Regions from separate parts of the Homo sapiens genome. Here all the other regions are linked to region 3. The links come from fine-mapping of genetic effects on gene expression. A gene starts in region 3. Each other region holds a variant in brackets. All regions are shown on one strand. Distances are between the middles of the regions. Region 1 overlaps B3GAT2 (beta-1,3-glucuronyltransferase 2). Region 2 overlaps SMAP1 (small ArfGAP 1). Region 3 holds the start of B3GAT2 (beta-1,3-glucuronyltransferase 2).

Region 1 (6,521 bases), 92 kb after region 3:
ATACTTACACAATAGAAGAACTGAGAAGCACTATTGATACTGTTAACTGTGGCTGAAGGAAGAAGAGGAGGCTTGCTGTACTTCTTCCTTTCCAATATTTCTGCCTTTTTTGTGGGGGTGGGAGCCTTATTTAAATGGCCAGGATCTCCAGGACTTTGTTGAATAAAAGTCAAGAGCAGCCATCCTTGCCTCATTCCAATCTTCAGGGATTTAACACTCAGTCTTTCACCAATTAAGTATAATGTTGGCATTAGGTATTTTTGTAGATGTCCTTATTAAGTTGAGAAAGTTCACTTCTAGTCTTAGTTTGCTGAGAGGCTTTTATTTCTTCTTTTCATTATGACTAGATGTTAGATTTTGTCAAAGCATTTTCTCCAGCTATTGTGATAGTCAGATTTTTTTTTTTAGTCTGCTAATATGGTGAATTACATTGATTGATTTTGAAATTTTAAACCAACATTGCAATCTGGAGATAATCCTCAAGTGGTCATGATTTATTGTCTTTTTATTGTTGAATTTGATTTGCTAAAATTTTGAGAATTTTTCTGTGATCATGAGGATTATTAGTCTGTAGTTTTCTTGTAATGTTTTTGTCTGGTTTTGGTATCAGGGCAATGCTGGTCTTACAGGATAACTTGAGAAAGATTTCCTCCTTTTCTATTTTCTAGAAAAATTCATGTAGAATTGCTGTCATTTCTTCCTTAAATGCTTGGTAGAATTTACCAGTGAAGCTCTCTGGTCCTGGAGGGTTGTGTGTATGTGTGTGGAAGATTTTAATTATAAACTTAATTTATTTGATACAGGGCTATTTCACATTATCTATTTCTTCATGAGTGAGCCTTGTAGCTTGTCTTTCAAGGACTTTTTCTATTTTGATCTAAGTTGTCAAATTTACTATCATAAAAAGTTGCTTATAATAGCCCCATATTATCATTTTAAGGTTTGTAGAACCTATCTCTTTCATTTCTGAGGCTGGTAATTTATATCTTCTCTTTTTCCTGATAAGCATGGGTAGAGTTTATCAATTTTATTAACTTTTTTTTCCTAAATGACTAGGTTTTTATTTCACTTATCTTCTCAATTGTTTTCTATTTCTACTTTAGTCGTTTCTGCTCTCATATCTATTAGTATAGTCGTTTTCTCCATTTACTTTGGGCTTCATTTGCTTTCTTTTTCTAATTTATAAAGGTAGGAGCTTAGGTTATTGAATTCAGACCTTTCTTATCCAGTAAGTGCTTAATGTTTTCTAAAAACTAGTTTCCCATCTAAACACTCCTTTAGATGTATCCTACACATTTTGATATGTCTTGTTTTCATTTTCATTCAGTTAACCACTTTATCATTTCCCTTTTGATTTCTTCTTTGGTTTGTATTTTGCTTAGAATTATATTGTTTAGTTTCCAAATATTTGGGATATTTTCCAGGTATCTTTGTATTTACTGATATCTATTTTAATTCCACTGTAGTCAGAAAACATATTTTGTACAATTTAAATTATTTTAAATGTATTGAGACAGATTTATGGCCCAGACTATGGTCTAACTATCGTGATAATGTTCCATGTGTACTTTAAAAGATTGTATTCTGCTGTTGTTGGGTGGAGTGTTCTATAAATGTCATTTAGGTGTAGTTGAAAATGTTATTTAAGTCTTACATATCTTTCCTGAGTTTTCAAGTTTGTAAATTTTTCAGTCGTCATTTCTTCAAATTTTTTTCCCTGTCTCCCTCATTCATTCACCTTTGACTCTGTTCCTGTGACTCTGTACGGTGTGTGTGTGTTGGTCTTGCCTTTTCTGTTTCATTTTGGTAGTTTCTATCATTATGTGTTCGAGTTTACTCAACTTTTATTCTGCAGTGTCTCCTCTGCTGCTAATCCCATCCAATGTATTTTTCATCTCAGACATTGTATTTTTCATCACTGAGGTGTCTTGGGCATCAGGCATTTTGAATTTTATGTTGCTAGATACTGGATGAGAGAGACATATATGTATACACACAACCATACATAAAAACACATATATATGTAATGTTATACTATATTATAAATACATATGTATTCTTGAGCTTTGTACTGGGACACAACTGAGTTAACTTGGAAACATTTTGATCCTTTCCAGGCTTGCTTTTGAAGTTTGTTAGGCAAAACCATCTCAGCCTCTAGTTTAGGGCTAATCAATTTGACCTTACAACAGGCACGATAACCTTCCAAGTTCTCCTCCAGGTGCTCCAGCTGTTACTAGGTAGCTCCACTCTGGCTACTGAGAATGGGAACTAGTCCCCTCCAGTAATTGATTCACCTGCTCCTTGCCAGTGGTTCTGTACCTGGCCTGAGGTAGTTGTGTGAGCATTTGCTCTTCATACTCAGTTGAAGAGTTGAGGAGAGCTGTCTACAGATCAGCAGAGTTCTTCCTTCTCTAGTACTCCACCCTGCATATCCTAGTTGTCTTGGCCTCCTCAAATTCTCAGTTGTTTCCTCAATTCAAGGGGACTGCAGAGCTTTCCGGGTTCCCCTCCCTGTGGTGTAGCCTGAAAACATACTTCAGGCAGGAAGCTGGGGCAGTTGTAGGGGTCACATTTCTCTTTTCTCAGAGATCTCTGTCTCATGTGCCTCTTTTCCAATGTCTGGAAACTTTTTTCAATCATTTTGTCTGCCTTTTTGTTATTTAAAACAAGTGAGGAAAAACCAGTCCCTATTGCAATTTTGTCCAGAAATGTAAATAGCTTGTTGGACTTTTAAAGTCTTACAAATTTTCTACTCAGTAATCAGTAATCATATATGGAGGTAGGCCCTATCCCTCTGCCTGAGAGGGAATAGTTATTCCTGAGTATCCATAGGGAATTGGTTTCAGGACTGCTACTCATACCAAAATCCATGGACGCTCAAGTCCCTGATATAGTGTTTACATATAACCTAGGCAGATCCTCCTGTATACTTTAAATCATCTCTAGATTACTTACCTAATACAATGCAAATGCCATGCAAATTGTTGTTATACTATATAGCTTTAAAACTTGTATTATTTTGACTGGCTGCTGTAGCTCACGCCTGTAATCCCAGCACTTTAGGAGGCCGAGGGGGGCAGATAACTTGAAGTCAGGAGTTCAAGACCAGCCTGGCCGACATAGTGAAACCCCGTCTCTGCTAAAAATACAAAATTAGCCAGGCCCACGTCTGTAGTCCCAGCTACTCGGGAGGCTGAGGCAGGAGAATCACTTGAACCCAGGAGGCAGAGGTTGCAGTGAGCCGAGATTGTGCCACTGCACTCCAGCCTGGGCAACAAGAGTGAAACTCTGTCCAAAAACAAAAAAGCCCTATTATTTCTTGTTGTATTGTCATTTTTTTGTTTTA[T/C]TTTCAGATATTTTTAATCTGAGGTTAGTTGGATCTGCAGATGCATCTGCAGATACAGAGGGTGACTGTGTATCCTCCCCACCTAGCTCTGCTGAAGAAGTCAGGAAATCCTGCCTTCTCAGTGAACAATCATTTTTATTTGCATTTTTTTTTTTACTCAGCTGACCAGGGCAGAAAATCCTACTCCCATGACTTTCGTAAGCATCTCCAAAGTAACCAACATCTTTAAAGATAACGAATCTCACTAAAAAAGGAAAGATATAATACTTGAAGTATAAATACTTGGAATTACCCAAGAAAACATCTTAGGTTGGAAATCAATGGTTTAGGATTCCCTTTACTGTGATTTCAGAGGGGAGAACTCTTTAACTCTGCCCCCAGCTTCACAGCGGGTCAGATTCCCCAAAAGTAACCCAGGGGTTGACCTAGTTAACATGCAGTCTCTCCTGCCAGCTGTGACCTGCTTCCTTTCAAGAGATCACTGAGCAAAGGAAATTGCGTTAGCTGATTGTGGGGCATCTGAATTGTGCTCCTCCACCCCTTTGTATTAGAGAATAGAAAAACACTTGGGTACTGTGGAGAGCCACAGGCTAACATGTCTCCAGGGTGCTGGCCTTTCAGGTGCGCACCATTCTCTAGTGACACCAGGAAAGGAGACCTTGCTGCAAAATGATGTATAGCTTCACAACTGGCTGTTAACTTTACATAAATTGTAGATTTTGCCATGTCATTCTGTGTGAAGCGCTGGAAGGATATTCCTGTGCTAAGGAAAGCAACAAAAGAATCTGAATCCTTCAGTGGTCGTGATGGTTAATGTGTTAAAGTCTTAGGGGAAAATGAAGGAAATCAGATCCAGGTGGCTCCATATCATTTCCAGAAATCACCTCTGCACAATTTGGATCCCATGTTTTTGAGAGAATGGGGAAATACAACCAGTATCCTGAAGCCATGTGAAGAATGTATCAGGAGTTTCAGTATGACTGAGAAGGGTAGGCTCTCATCTGAATTTAAAAAAAAAAAAAAAAAAAAAAGGATAAAGCTTATTTATAAGCATGTGGGAAAAAGCAAGAAATCTTTTAACACTAAAATCTGATCTGACCTGTTGGAAAGGACACTACGTTATCAATTTGAACCTCTGGCTTTTGTTGAGGTGTCTGGTGGTTGTCCTAGTTGTGTCTAAGGAAGGCTGTGGACTTGTTACCAGAGTTGCTATCACATGTAGGTGTCCTGGCTTTGCTACCTGGAACTTTCCCAAACCTTTTACATCTGTCAACCAGTATTCTTTCAGCCATAAATGGTGGCTGGCATCACCTGCCCCTCATGATCACACTGACAATAGTATTTTTATTTATATATTGTAGTATCTTTTGAACAGTGCTTTGCAGTCAGTGGAGTCTTTCCATACCTCAATTTTTCATCAAACATTGAGTTGAAGTGTTACACTTCTCTCGCAAATAAAGAAATGGGGAAGTTAGAAAATCAAGAAAGGTTAAATGAGTTGGCCAGTGTCCCAGGGGCAGGGACCTAGGCAAAAACAAAAGGCTTCTAATTCCAAATCCAGTATTCTCTGCTAAAATGTGCCACCTCCCTCCCTTTAGGGTTGGTGGAGGTATCGATACTGGGGCTAGTCCTACAGCTAATGCTTTATGATTCTTTGTTCTGCTTCACTCAGCACCTGCTGTACCACGTTATGTTTGTAAGTGGCTTAGTGTTAACTTTTCTCCAAAAGGCAGCAGGGTCTGGAACAGGAGACTGGCCCAGTCTGGCATCTGGAGAGGATGGTGGTTGTGGTGTTTTCACAGCTCCTCCATTACCACCTGGTATCATTTAGTATTACTTTGCAAACTGAATCATAAATCAACTCATTTAATGTAGAGAAGGGCAAAAGTTGCTGAGAAATGTTTTGTGGGTTGGTGCCCGGAGCTTCAACTCTGGGAGGGTGCCTGACTTGACAGTATCACCTTAGTCACTAAGGAAAAAGAGATCCAGGGCTTCAGACCTTCAAAACAATTATTACTTGCTGAGATGGCAAAAACAATTGTAGAGTGCTTCAATGGCTGAGCTTTAAACAGTTTGTTAAACTACAGATTAAATACGAATGATTCTTTTTTCTTTGAGACAGGGCCTCATTCTGTTGCCCAGGCTGGAGTTGCAGTGGCACAGTCATAGCTCACAGCAGCCACAACCTCATAGGCTCAGGCAATCCTCCCACCTCAGCCTCCTAAGTAGCTGGGACTACAGGCACGCACCACGTGCCACAACACCCAGCTAATTTTTGTATTTTTTGTAGAGACAGGGTCTCATTATGCTGCCCAGGCTGGTCTTGAACTCCTGGGCTCAAGAGATCCTTCTGCCTTGGCCTCCCAAAGTGCTGAGATTACAGATGTGAGACACTGTGCCCAGCCAGTAATGATTTTTCGTATGACCAAACCATTGAAGAAAATTTACACTTATTTTTGGTAAATGAAATACCAAAAAAAAACTTTATCAGATGATGGCCTGATATCTCCTGCACTGATTTCTGCCCCACATACCCTTTTTAGATTGAACCAAATTAGAAATATAAACCAGATGATTAAAAATTAGGTATGATTCATTTTCCAGCTAATCGGCTTTACTTCTGTTGCTCCCTCTTCTAAATGCAAAATGAATCCAAGCAGTGCTGGATTTAAGGAAGCATACATAATTAATATTACAGGGCAGGCAGGAGAGCTGGGCATGTGGTCTCATACCCCACATGTAGTTAGGTAAGCATGTATGTTTTTCAGCTGCATTTATTTCTTAGTTATTCCTAGTGGCAAATGTGGGGGGTTGATGATCACTGTGAAACAGCAGCTTATAAAATTCACCCTTTATTATCAACAGACTAAACTTCCTATTTTGCGTAGATGCTCCTGTGCACGCCTTTATTTTACACGGAATGTAAAATATTGTAATGACTGATTTTCCTTTGAGACTGTAATACAGGTAATGTTCCTATTCAACTTTGTAAACCAAGACCTGACACACAGTAGGTATTTTAAAAACTGTTTTGATGTGACCAAAATTATACAGAAAAAAAGAGAAGTACACCAGGATTTTAAAGTCTCTTTTTTTTTTTTATTTTTCACAAAGGATTTGCTGTAAGTCTTCAAGTCATTTTGTCCAATCCAAAAGCTGTATTTAAGCGTCG
Region 2 (6,521 bases), 250 kb after region 3:
CATACCTGTAATCCCAACAGTTTGGGAAGCTGAGGCAGAGGATCACCTAAGTCAGGAGTTTGAGACCAGCCTGGCCAACATGATGAAACCCCAGCTCTACTAAAAATACAAAAAATTAGCCAGGCATGGTGGCAGGCGCCTGTAATCCCAACTACTTGGGAGGCTGAGGCAGGAGAATCACTTGAACCCAGGAGGTGGAAGCTGCAGAGACCCAAGATCACACCACTTCACTCCAGTCTGGGCAACAGAGCAAGACTCTGTCTTAAAAAAAAAAAAAAAAATCATAATGAACTGAAATAGTTGGAGAAAATTTCATTCAAAAAACACTTCATAAATGCAGTATAACTTTGAACTAGGCCTGGAAAGATGGATGAGATATGGAAGAAGGGAAAAGACTCAGAAGCTTAATTGTTCATTCACTCATTCATTGACTCACTGTCATCAAAAATGTGGTTAATGCTTACTATATGCCAAGAACTTTCTAGTTACTGGGTATCCTCAGGGAAATAAAACAGATGAGAGTCTGCCATCATGAACTACAAATCCCAAGAAAGCAAGACAGAGAAAAACAAGTTAGATATTTGTCTTTGGATGCCTGCCTGTTCAATTAATAGCCCCTTTCAGCTTGAAGTGGAAAAATTAACTAAAATAATAAATGTCTCCATATATTAGAACTTTTGCTTTTTAAAAGTCTTGATATAAGGAGAAGCAGAAACTGATGGCTAAAATGACACTCTGAATTAGATGCAGAGTCCAACTACTTTCTTGTCTTTCAAGCTCACAAATAATGGATACGGTTGACTAATCCCACTTAATGTCTTTGATATCAGTAACAATGAAAATTGCTATATAAAGATTTTTAACAAATACAACTGTGGAATATATTAGCCTTGTTTGCATTTTAGCAGGAAGAATAAACTCAAAGACTAAGGCAAATTCTGTACCAGTTTGACAACAGCAAACTATAATTACATAAACAGATGTTTTCACCATTCTATGAAATGGAAGGAGACGTTATTTGAAACATGAACAATTTAAATAACTTGCTGCAGAATATAACCATTTTAATTTGACTTGAAAAAAAAATCTGTAATATTAGCAGTCAGCAAAATACAATCAAATTTATATATGAAGAGCACAGCACATCACAGGAGATTTCCTCTATAAGTTGATTCAGACTTCAAAGAATCAGGAGGAGTAATGGATTAACTTGTTTTGTATCATTCACTTAGCAGTATCAAGCTTTCATTGGAACAGAAGAGTACTAGTAACATCAATAGTTTTCATTTTCTCCTGTAATTTGTTAATAGCTCTAAAAATTACATGAGGACAGATGTTATAAATAAACTTAAATGTAACTGTTCTCTTCAATGAGCCTAGGAAAAATATAAGTTTCAATAAAAAGAAACAAGGGGTTTAAAAGTAATTTTCTTTTCATGGCTTTTTCTACTAAAATACCATATTGAGTTGTTTTCTAACCAAAATATGAAGGAACAGACGCTGAAATTTGCCCAATCGACTAAAGCAACTTTAAATCCAAACAAAATATATAACACATTGCTGAAGAAACTGGAAATCAAGAGATGGAAAACAAACTAGGTGAGAGCCTTACAATGAACTCAGCTTACTGTCCAGGGAAAGTGTCTAGGCCATGGCAAAGGGAAGATAAATCCAGGGGCAGCCCAGTGGCCTCCCTAACTCCAGGAAATGGATCTAGGAGTTCACAGAGACTAAGGTGGCTGAATTTCATAAGGCAGCATACAAGAGGAGAGAGATGCACAGAGAGAAAACTCCTTAAACATGCAAAAAGTCATCACTGAATATTTAATTGAGTACTGATTGGTGCACGTGTGTGAGGAAACTACAGAAGGTAGGGAAAACCCCACCCAAAACAATTAGAGGAAACTAACTTGAAAACTTTATTATTAATGGATCATCAGATATGGTATTCGAAGAATTTTTGCCTCACTAATGGAAAAATTAATTCTATAAAGTCCTGTAGTCTCACCTAGTAAAGCTTAAAAGCAAGATCTGAAAAAGTCAGGCTATTTCCAAGTAACTTAACTGCATCCAAGAAAAAAGGTCAAAAATATTTATAAAAATACAAAAATATCAGGAACCGATACAATTCCCATATCTAGCATTCAATTGAAAAATGCTGGCTGAGCGTGGTGGCTCACACCTGTAATCCCACCACTTTGGGAGGCCGAGGTGGGCGGATCACTTGAGATCAGTTCAAGACCAACCTGGCCAACATGGTGAAACCCTGTCTCTACTAAAAATACAAAAATTAGTTGAGCATGGTGGCAGGCATCTGTAATCCCAACTACTTGGGAGGCTGAAGCAGGAGAATCGCTTGAGCCCAGAAGGCAGAGGTTGCAGTCAGCCATATCGTGTCACTGAACTCCAGCCTGGGTGACAGAGCGAGACTCTGTCTCAAAAAAAAAAGTCGTGAAAAAAGGAAAACATAATCTATAAAAAGGAGGAAAGTCAATCAATCGAAACAAACCCTCAAATTACACTTGAATTAGCACGCAAGGCACAAAATCCATTATCATTGACTTCTATATGTTCAAGAAGCTATAAGAAAGACTGAACATGGGGACAGGCACAGTGGCTCATGCCTGTAATCCCAGCACTTTGGAAGGCCAAAGCAGGTGAACTGCTTGCACTCAGGATTTCGAGACCAGCCTGGGCAACAGGGCCAAGACCCTGTCTCTATAACAAACACAAAAATTAACCAGGTGTGGTGGTGCGCACCTGTAGTCCCAGCTACTCAGGAGGCTGAGGTGGGACAATGGCTTGAGCCTGGGAGGTTGCAGTGAGCTGAGATCACACCACTCAACTCCAGCCTGGGTAAAAGAGCTAGACTCTGCCTCAAAAAAAAAAAAAGAAGAAGAAGAAGAAGAAGAAAGAAAGGCTGAACATGTGAAGAAGAGGCATGAGGCATGGAGTGCATGTGTGTGTGGACACAAAAGATCCAAATCAAACTTCTATAAGATGCAAACTATAATGACTGGGATAAGAACTACACTGGATAGAATTAAGAGATGAGACAATCAAGAAGAAAAAACTGCTAAAAGAATGTGAAGACAAAGCAATAGCAACTATCTAAAATGAAACAAATAAACAGACCCCC[TC/C]CCCAAAAAAAAAGCATGTAACTGAGCTCTGCAGCAGTTTCAGCAACCTAATTAACTTTTAATTGGAATTCCCAAATTAAGAGGTGGAGTGACAGAAAAAGTAAAATAATTGCAGAATTTTTTCCAAATGCATTGAAAACTATAAACCCATAGAACCAAGAACCTCAAAGGAACCCCCCCCAAAAAAGAAACATGAAGAAAGCTACCAAAAGACAATTCATAATCAAACTGATTAAAACTAAGGATAAACAGAAAAAAATCTTAAAAGAAGCTGGGGGAAAAGGCATTACGGACAAAGGAACATACAATGATGACAGATTTCTCACAAAATCAACGGAAACTCACAAACAGCAAAATATCTTAAAAGTACTGAAAGTAAAATACTGTCAACGTAGAACTTTTTGCCATACTAAAACATCTTTTGAAAACAAAGGTGAAATAAAGGTCAGGAAAGTAATCAATGAAGTAGGAGGCAGAGCAAGATGAACAAACAGAACCAATAATCATCTCCCCTGCAGGAACACCAAATTGAACAATTATCCACACAAGAAATCACCTTCATAAGAACCAAAGTATCTGGTTTTAATATCATATTGAGAAAAGGGGCACTGAAGAGGTTAGGGAAGACAATTTTGAATTGCCTACACTACCCTCCTCAACCCCCTGGACAGCAGCTGTATGACAGAGAGAGAATGTGTGCTTGGGGAAGGGAGAACGCAGTGATTGTGGGACTTGGCATTGAAACTCTGTCCTGCCAATCATGGTGGGAAGCGACACAGGGCAGAAATCAGCTGGGGCCCAAGGAAGGAACTTTTATACCAGCCTTAACCAGAGGAAAATCATCCATCCCAGCAGCGAGAACCTGAGTTCTGGCTAGTCCCACCAGTGCATGCTAAAGCACTCTAGGGTCCTAAATAAACTTGAAAGGCAGTCTTGGCCACAAGGACTGCAATCCCTAGGCAAGTCCCGGTGCTGTGCTGGGCTTGCAGCCAGTGGACTTTGGGTGCACGTGACCTAGTAAGACACCAGGCCAGGCATGGTGGCTCATGCCTGTGATCCAGAGCCGGGTGGATCACTTGAGCTCAGGAGTTCGAGACAAGCTTGGGAAACATGGCAAAACCCATCTCTACCAAAAATACAAAAAAATTAGCCAGGCATGGTGGTGTGTGCCTATAGTCCCAGCTACTAGGAAGGCTGAGGTAGAAGGATTGCTTGAGCCTAGGAGGTGGAGGTAGCAGTGAGCTGAGATACCAGCTGGGGCAGCCAAGGGAGTGCTTGCATCACCACTCCCCCAATCCCAGGTGGCACAGCTCACAGCTCTAGGAGAGACTCCTTCCTTCCGTGTGAGGAGAGAAGAGGGGAGGGTAAAGACGACTTTGCCTTGCAACTTGGATATCAGTTCATCCACAAGAGAATGGAGCACCAGGCAGAGTCCTGAGGCCCCCATTCCAGGACCTAGCTCCCCGATGACAATTCTAGACACACCCTGGGCCAGAAGGGAACCCACTGCCTTGAAGGGAAGGACACAGTTCTGGCAGGATCCATTACCTGCTGACTAAAGAGCCCTTGGGTCTTGAACAAACACCAGCAGGTAATACTTGCCGGTACTTGCTAGTAGCCAAGTAGAACTTGCTGCAGGCCTTGGGTAAGACCCAGTGCCATGCAGGCTTCAAGCATGACCCACCATGTTCACAGCTGTGGTGGCTATGGGGAGAGACTCCTTCTGTATTAGGTCGTTCTTCTGTTACTATACATAAATATCTGAGGCTGGGTAATTTACAAAGAAAAGAAGTTTAGGCTGGGTGCCATGGCTCACACCTGTAATCCCAGCAATTTGGGAGGCCAAGGCAGGTGGATCACTTGAGGCCAGGAGTTTGAGACCTGTCTGGCCAACATGGTGAAACTCCATCTCTACTAAAAACACAAAAATTAGCCAGGCATGGTGGTACATCCTGTAATCGCAGCTACTCTGGAGGCTGAGGCACAAGAATCGCTTGAACCTGGGAAATGGAGGTTGCAGTGAACCGAGATCATGCCACTGCACTTCAGCCTGGGTGACAGTGAGACTGTCTGAAAAGAGAAAAGAGGTTTAATTGGTTCACTGTTCTGCTGGCTGTACAATTATGGCACCAGCATGTGCTTGGCTTCTGCGGAAGCCTCAGGGAGCTTTTACTCACGACAGAAGGTGAAGCAGGTGCTTGCAGGCCATATGGCGAGAGAAGGAGCAAGGGGCAGAGGGAGGTGCCACACACTTTTAAATAATCATATCTCATGAGAACTCACTCACTATCTCAAGAACAGCACGAAGGTACGAGGAATCCATTCCTGTGACCCACAAACCTCCCACCAGGCCCCACCTCCAACACTGGGGAATACAACATCTCAACATGAGATTTGGGTGTGACAAATACCCAAACCATATCACCTTCTGCTTGAGGAAAGGAAAGGGAAGAATAACGGGGACTTTGTCTTACAGTTTGGTTGCCAGCTAAGTCACAGTGGTGTGGAGCACCAAGCAGGCTCCTAGGATCCCAGATTCCAGGCCTTGGCTCCTGGATGGCATTTCTGGACCCACCCTGGGCCAAAGAGGAGCCCACTGCCTTGAAGGGAGAGACCCAGGCCTGGCAACATTTACTACAAACTCACTGAAGAGCCCTCGGACCTTACGTTAACATCAGCAGTGGCGAGGCAGTACTCACCACAGGCCTTGGGCAGTGGTGGTCATGAGGAAAGACTACCACTTGAAGAAAGGAGAGGGAAGAATGTTAAGAACTTTGTCTTGCAGCTTGGATGCCAACTCAGCCACAGCAGAACAGTGCATTAAGTGGAATCCTAAGCTTCCTGACTCCAAGCCCTGGTTCTCAGGCATTTCTGGACCCACCTTGGGCCAGTGGAGAGCTCGCTGTCCTGAAGGGAGGATACAAGCCAGGCCGGATTCACTACCTGCTGACTGAAGAGCTCTTGGGCCTTGAGAGAACATCAGTGGTAGCCAGGCAGTGGTCGCCACAGGTCCCGGGTAAGACTCAGTGCTATGCTGGTTTCAGGTCTAATCCAGCGCAGTCCCAGTGGTGGTGGTCACATGGGTACTTGTTTCATCCCTCCCTCAGCCGCAGGAAGCTCTGCACAGAGAGAGAGACTCCATTTGTTTGCAGGAAAGTAAGGGAAGAAAACAAGAGTCTCTGCCTGGTAATCCAGGGAATTCTCTCAGATCTCACCTAAGACCACCAAAGCAGTACCTCTACCGGTCTGCAAGAGTCAGTGTTACTGGGTCTGGGTCCCCACTAATGCAGATGCAGCTGCAATAAGCAAAGACTTAGATCAGGACACTCAATTCCTTTGCATACTTGGACAGCCTTCCCAAGAAGGATGAGGACAAACAAG
Region 3 (6,521 bases):
ATTGTTTTATGTAAGAATATCATAAGCTATATGGAAAAGTACCATAGCTTACTTAGTGATTATGCTTCATAAAAATGACATTTTCTCCAAGCTCCCATTTAAAGGAGTTGTTTCCATTCCAGCCCCTGATAGACTCGTGACATATTTTTAAAGTATAAGTTTTTGCACTTAAAAATGTTTTGCCCTGGTTTTGTACTTCTAATGGACATCCTTAATGATAATTTTCGTATCTTTATATCTTTGCTCAGATTTGATCATAAGAGATTCGGGGCCACATATTGAGTGGCTTAATGTAAAACAATATGGCATATTCAGCCATCTGAAATAAATGTCACTTGGAATCATGTCATCCTTATTGCATGACAAGCTATACCTTGCATTTGGGGTAAATTTATTTCTTCTTTCTTCCACTCCCTAGACCAACTTGGGAAGACTCTAACATACACTCTAGGAATTATCTTCATTACAAGCAGAGGTACTATTTAGAAGCATTATCAGTCCTGTTTAGATTTCATTTTATATTCATTTGATAACGATGATCCATCAAGATCTCTTGTGTTAAGGTGTTCTTTTGAGGAAGGGTTATCTGTATTGAAATATCATTTATTGACTGCCTGTGTAATAATGGCTCTTCTTCAAACTACCCAACATACACCATTTAATCCTTGCAAGATTCCCATGGAGTATGTATTATTAACCCCATTTTCCAGATGAGGAAACAGGCCTTGGGAGGTTCACTGATTTTCTAAAGTTGCACAGTAGAAAGTATCCCAGAGGGGACTCAAACCCAGGTCTGCCTGACTCCAAGAACCATGAAGCTCCCCAACAGATGACTGAATGAAATAAACCTGGGTACAAATGCTAAGGGTAATAGAAAAAAATGAAGTGACAGTCTGTGATGTGCTAATTAAGTGTTGTGTTTTATGACACCCATGAATTCTGGGCATGAGCTAAAGTCTCAAACTGCAAATTCAATTGATTTTGAAAGTGCTTTGGGCTAGGCACAATGGCTTACATCTGTAATCCCAGCACTTTGGGAGGCCAAGGCATAAGGACTGCTTGAGCCCAGGAGTTCAAGACCATCTTGGGTAATAGGAGACCCCAGTCTACAAAAACTAAAATGAAAAAATTAGCAGGGTGTAGCAGCTTATATCTGTAGTTCCTGCTACTCAAAAAGCTGAGGCAGGAGGATTGCTTGAGCCCAGGACATCGAGACTGAAGTGAGCTGTGTTCAAGTCACTGCACCCCAGCCTTGGCATTGAAGAGAGACCCTGTCTGTCTGTCTTTCTCTCTCTCTCTCTCTCTCACACACACAGACACACACACACACACACACACACACACACACACACAGTGTTTCATCTCTGAATAGCCCTGGTTCCTGGAGAGGATGTAATAGCAAATAGGTTTTATGGCATAGTTGGACCAACCAAAAGTTCCCCACTAACAAAGGTTAGTGATGTTTTTAGTACAATTCAGTAACAACATGAATTTTATTCCAGCAAACACAAGGCATTTTAACCAAATTTAAAATTTCCAACAGGATGAACCAGACTTCAGTAACTTAGGGGAGAGGGGTGCACTGCTTCCTAAGAAAAACCTTTTCTTAAAGGGAGGCCTTGACTTCTTTCCTCTTCCCCATCCTGGCATGATGCTGGTGCAGAATACATTTCCAAGGTTGTGTTATATTCAGAGGCACATTAGGCTATTCGAGAGAATGGGAAGAGGTCTAATGGCTTCGTTGTTTTCTATGTTTAGGATGCACTAATCTGCAGAGTTTAATGTATGAGTTGTGGATGGCACAGGGAAGTTGGGACAGAAGGCTAGCTCTAGGGAGTTGTTGGGGTGGCTGGGTGTTAGTCTGAAATTTCACTCTCACGTTTCAGAATCTGAAGAGGAAGTTAGGGAAATTCACAGATGAGCCAATGCCTTTTAACAGGTGGGGGGTTCAGGGGTAGGACTGGGAGAAGAGGAGCTGTCAGAAAAGCTGGAGAGCCATTCGCCCCAGAGCTCTCAGTTGCACCAGAACGCACAGTCGGAGAGAGATTTATTTGTGAACAAGCCCGAGAAAGGCAGACAACCCAGACAAGATGGGCTCAGAAATTATTTATCATAGGCTAGGGCAGAACAGTCTGGAGCTTTCCTTCTGCTTTGCAAGCACTTCCCTGGGACCTGCCTGGGAAGCACAGCCCTTCTTCCTGGTAAGTTACAGAAGGTCAGGCACTCAGCTAGTAGGCCAGCTAGACAGCAAAAAGTGTCTAAACTAAGTGCCAACTGTTTACTTGGGGTCTTCCAGACCCTATCATGGTTCTATTCGTCATGGTACACTCTGTTTGATTTCAATCGCACCATCTTTATATGTAGGAAGGCCAAACCGGCCCGGCTGTGTTGGGTGGGATTTCTGCAGGCCATGCAGTGAGGACGCCACTAGCTATAGACACACGCAGGAGACCCACGTTCTATTTCCATATGCCACTTGCCACTGACCTCAGAGAAATCATTTTAAACCCTGAACCTCAGCTTCCTTATCCTGAAAATGAAGGCCATTCTACTTCTTAGGCCTTCTTGACAGGAGCCTTGGGAGAGCCAAACGGAGTAATTCCGGTGACAGCGAAGAACTGGGAGGGACCGTGACTCCAAATTACTGAAGAAAAATAAGTTAAACATGCTCGGCTGGAGTTTTAGGAATTCCACCCGCCCCCACCCGCCATGATCAAACTGCAGTCAGGCAGCAGCCCTCCGAATTGATTCTTTCTTATGGACTGTCTCACATGCCAAACACCTATGTGCAGCACCCCTCCATCTCCGTGGGCTCCTATTGATGTCTGCCTTGCAGTGAAAGCGCTTTTTGTTGCCGCTGTTCGATACACCCCAGCACATCAACGCAGCAGCTGGGAGCAGGAGGAGGAATCCCTTCGCTTTCTCCCCTCCTTTCACTCCGAACCCTAGGCATCAGCAGCAACGCGCGTAGCCCGGCAAATTTCCGCACGTGAATGGATTTTCCTGGCTCATCTCCAAAGACCTTGCGGTATTTCACAAAGCTGAAGAGAGGTGAACGAGCATCACCCCCTCCAGGAGGTCGTGCAGCCCCGCGGGGACGCTCCTCCCGCTCCTCCACCCGCGGTGCAGCGGCCGCCTCCCGAGCTTGCTCGCGGGGCCGTTAGCGCCAGACCCGGCGGAGAGCCAAGGGGTCCCTCCGCGCCTCCCTCTCGCAGCCCCTCTCCACCAGTAGCAGCGCTGCTGTCTTCCCACAGGAGGACTTGGGAGGACGCTGGATTCTGCAGCGCCCCCGCCCCCTCGCTTTTTCTTTCTTTCCTTGCTTTGGGATCTTGCTGCTGGATCCGGAGAGGTTCTGAGAAGACAAGAGCAAGGGACTGAGAGCAGGCTTCCGCTGCGGCGCGCGAACACAGCCGGGACACAACCCCCAGCGTCTCCACCCGCTCCTCGCCACCCCGGCGGGAATGTGAGGAAGGAAAGCCCCCAGCGCCGCCGCCCGCCCTCGAAGGCGTCCCAGAGAGCGTCCTGGGGGCCCGCGGCTGGAGCCCTTGTGCCCGCAGCACCGCCGGACTGGAGCGGCGAGGCGCACCGGGTGCCGCTTCTCGGCTTCCACTCTTCAGAAAGAGCGCGGTGGGGATCAGCGCCTTTCCCGCACTCGGCACAACTCCGGGACCGGCGGCGCGCGGCTGGACCGAGTCCCGCTTCCCGCCAGCTCACCTGGAGTCGGGGGCAGCCCCTGCCCGCCCGCCTGCACCCCTTGTCGCTCTAGCTTGCGCGAACCTGCCGCTCCTCCACGCCCAGGTAGTGAGCCCCGCGGCTCCAGGTCTCTGCAGCGCCCTCGGCCCCATGGACAGCGCACCCATCACCACTCCCTAAGTGCTGGCGCCGCCGCTGTCCAAGCTGCGCACTGGGGTCCCTCGGCTCGCCCCTCTCTGGGGTGTCCGAGAGGCCAGGGAGCGTGCACCATGAAGTCCGCGCTTTTCACCCGCTTCTTTATCCTCCTGCCCTGGATCCTAATTGTCATCATCATGCTCGACGTGGACACGCGCAGGCCAGTGCCCCCGCTCACCCCGCGCCCCTACTTCTCTCCCTACGCGGTGGGCCGCGGGGGCGCCCGACTCCCGCTCCGCAGGGGCGGCCCGGCTCACGGGACCCAAAAGCGCAACCAGTCTCGGCCGCAGCCACAGCCGGAGCCGCAGCTGCCCACCATCTATGCCATCACGCCCACCTACAGCCGCCCGGTGCAGAAAGCGGAGCTGACCCGCCTGGCCAACACGTTCCGCCAGGTGGCGCAGCTGCACTGGATCCTGGTGGAGGACGCGGCGGCGCGCAGCGAGCTGGTGAGCCGCTTCCTGGCGCGGGCCGGGCTGCCCAGCACTCACCTGCACGTGCCCACGCCGCGGCGCTACAAGCGGCCCGGGCTGCCGCGCGCCACTGAGCAGCGCAACGCGGGCCTCGCCTGGCTGCGCCAGAGGCACCAGCACCAGCGCGCGCAGCCCGGCGTGCTCTTCTTCGCTGACGACGACAACACCTATAGTCTGGAGCTCTTCCAGGAGGTAAAGGCCAGCCTGCCCCGCTGGGTGGGCGAGGGCGGGAGTGGGCCTCCGGGCCGGCCGGGCTGCAGTCACACGCCCCTTGCACTCCGGGTGCACTTTTGAGTTCTCAGTTCTCCGTGCGCGCATTCGGGGCACCGAGTGGAGCCGCTCCTTGCTGGCACTCCGCAGCCTCCGCTGGCCGTGGGGGTGGAGGGGCTGTGTGTGAGAGGATCACTGTGGCTTAAGGGGCGGGAGTCTGCCCTGGGGCTTTTCTGTGTGGAGATTGTGTCAAGAGAATAGCACAGGTGTGAGGCGCGGGAATGATTTCCAGGGGCCAGGCTCCTGACGACCTGAGGATGGAGCTTAGACCTGCAGGCGCTGGCTGCGATAGGAGATCAGGGAGGGACCTGCACCGTAGCGGGTGGCGGTGGAGGGGTGGGGGTGGTGGGGACGGGTAGGCTAGGTGTTACTCGAGGCTTTTCAGTGCCTACAGGTGTGATTCTCAGTCTAGGACCATATAGGGAGAAAGGTGGAGATAGCCTAGAGAGAAATTTGACTATTGCGGCCCACTGGCACGGAAATGGTTGTTAGAAGAAACACTGACTTCTATGGAGGTCCTTCCTCTCTTTCCCACACCTCACAAAAGTCTTTTCTGACCCTCAAGATTACTTTTTTTTTTTTTTTGCAAGAAAACCCTTTCTGGAAAATAAACTGTTCTGCCCTGTGGTTACGTCTTTTTTGCAGCCCAAGGTAAACATCTGGGCTGCCTGATCCCTTTTCACAACCTTTCTCTAAGGCCTCTTTTTGGCGAGTTAGCCAGGACACATTTGGCGGGGCCTTTTGCGTCTTTCTGGTGCAGCCAGGTCCTGAGTGCATCCGGGCTCCCTGCTGTTGAGATGGCCCATGAGTTCCCTGGGATGGCCACGCGCGCACCGCCCCCCCCCGCCGCCCCCGGCAGGCACAGGGTTAGAACAGGTGTTCTTCCTTGAGGCTGGTATCTTGCGGTGTGTGTGTGTGTAGCCTGCAAATGAGACTGAGTGGCATGGGTTTTCTCAGTTTTCTTCTGTCTACGCAATTACAGCCAAAGAAAATCTTCTTGATTGATTTGACGCCCTGTGAGACTGTTGCCTTCCTCCACCTGAAATTTCTTGACGTCCTGCTTCAGAGACTCCCCCTCAATTCCCCTTCTCCCAAGTAAACTGGACATTGGGAAAATACTATGTGTGAGTTGGACACTGAACTGCTAAAATAATCTGTGTGTCTGGTCATCAGATACCCTAACTGCTTCCCACACTTTCATCCTCATCTCTGGGTTGCTTTCTTAACCCCAGGGCAGAGCTATTCTGTACTCTTCCAGTTTAATTTTTCTGTGTGGCTTTAAAAAAATTTTCTTAAAGGTAATTGCCGCCTTCATTTCTATTCATCCTCTCTTTCATGAATAAAAGGCACAGTAATTGTCCTTCATCTTTTCTTTTCCATCCTTTCACTGTAGAGGGCTTTCTTTCCACGTTTCTCCAAATGAATAAATAAGCTTGGCATTGTATAGTATGGTCCTTACTCAACCCAAGATTAGAGATACCATCTGACGTTTTTAACTGGGCTTTTAATCCTGCATCAGTGCTCCCCCCTCCAAAAGAAAAAAGTGGCTTGCATCTGAAGCAAAGACTGTACATTTCAATGCACCACAATTTTTAAACCGCAAGGTCTTTTTATTTTCTTCTACAACTTCGAAGTTGCCTCGTCTGTGACAATATGTGGTCTTGTTGAAGTAAAATAGTGCACATTACTGTTAATGAACACTGTAGGAGGCTAGATTGTGAAGGAGGAATGATTTAGTTTATTCCGAGCTTCTAGCCTCTTGGTGTGAGGTGTTAGAAGAATTGGCACACGCAGGCAGTGAAATGATTCAGGACACAGCCTTCCTTTGATGCTTCCCAAACTGAAAGGAGGGTTTGTTGGTGGGGGATATTAAGCATCAGGAGAAAATTC

Evidence for each region. PIP is the estimated chance that this variant, and not a neighbour inherited with it, causes the effect. A credible set is the group of variants that fine-mapping cannot tell apart.
Region 1: its variant is the best candidate, but not a certain one, in a credible set for the expression of B3GAT2 in lung (GTEx, PIP 0.61).
Region 2: its variant is the best candidate, but not a certain one, in a credible set for the expression of B3GAT2 in coronary artery (GTEx, PIP 0.68).

Annotation. Positions count from the first base shown.
Region 1 is chr6:70,861,921-70,868,441 of GRCh38, reverse strand. It overlaps B3GAT2 (beta-1,3-glucuronyltransferase 2), which reads left to right. Exons shown (of 4, transcript NM_080742.3): 3 at 6,464-6,521. It overlaps SMAP1 (small ArfGAP 1), which reads right to left. Exons shown (of 11, transcript NM_001044305.3): 11 at 6,439-6,521. Among named protein-coding and RNA genes, the nearest start is that of B3GAT2, 92 kb to the left of the region's middle. The variant T/C (reference allele first, on the strand shown) is at 3,350.
Region 2 is chr6:70,699,013-70,705,533 of GRCh38, reverse strand. All of the region lies in intron 1 of SMAP1 (small ArfGAP 1), which reads right to left. Among named protein-coding and RNA genes, the nearest start is that of SMAP1, 34 kb to the right of the region's middle. The variant TC/C (reference allele first, on the strand shown) is at 3,140.
Region 3 is chr6:70,953,871-70,960,391 of GRCh38, reverse strand. It overlaps B3GAT2 (beta-1,3-glucuronyltransferase 2), which reads left to right and starts at 3,332. Exons shown (of 4, transcript NM_080742.3): 1 at 3,332-4,553. The coding sequence starts at 3,963. It overlaps LOC124901229, which reads right to left and starts at 3,964. Exons shown (of 2, transcript XM_047419611.1): 1 at 3,864-3,964; 2 at 1,475-3,760. The coding sequence starts at 3,964. The coding sequence ends at 3,034. RefSeq lists an enhancer at 3,557-4,072 and silencers at 4,001-4,130, 4,601-4,740.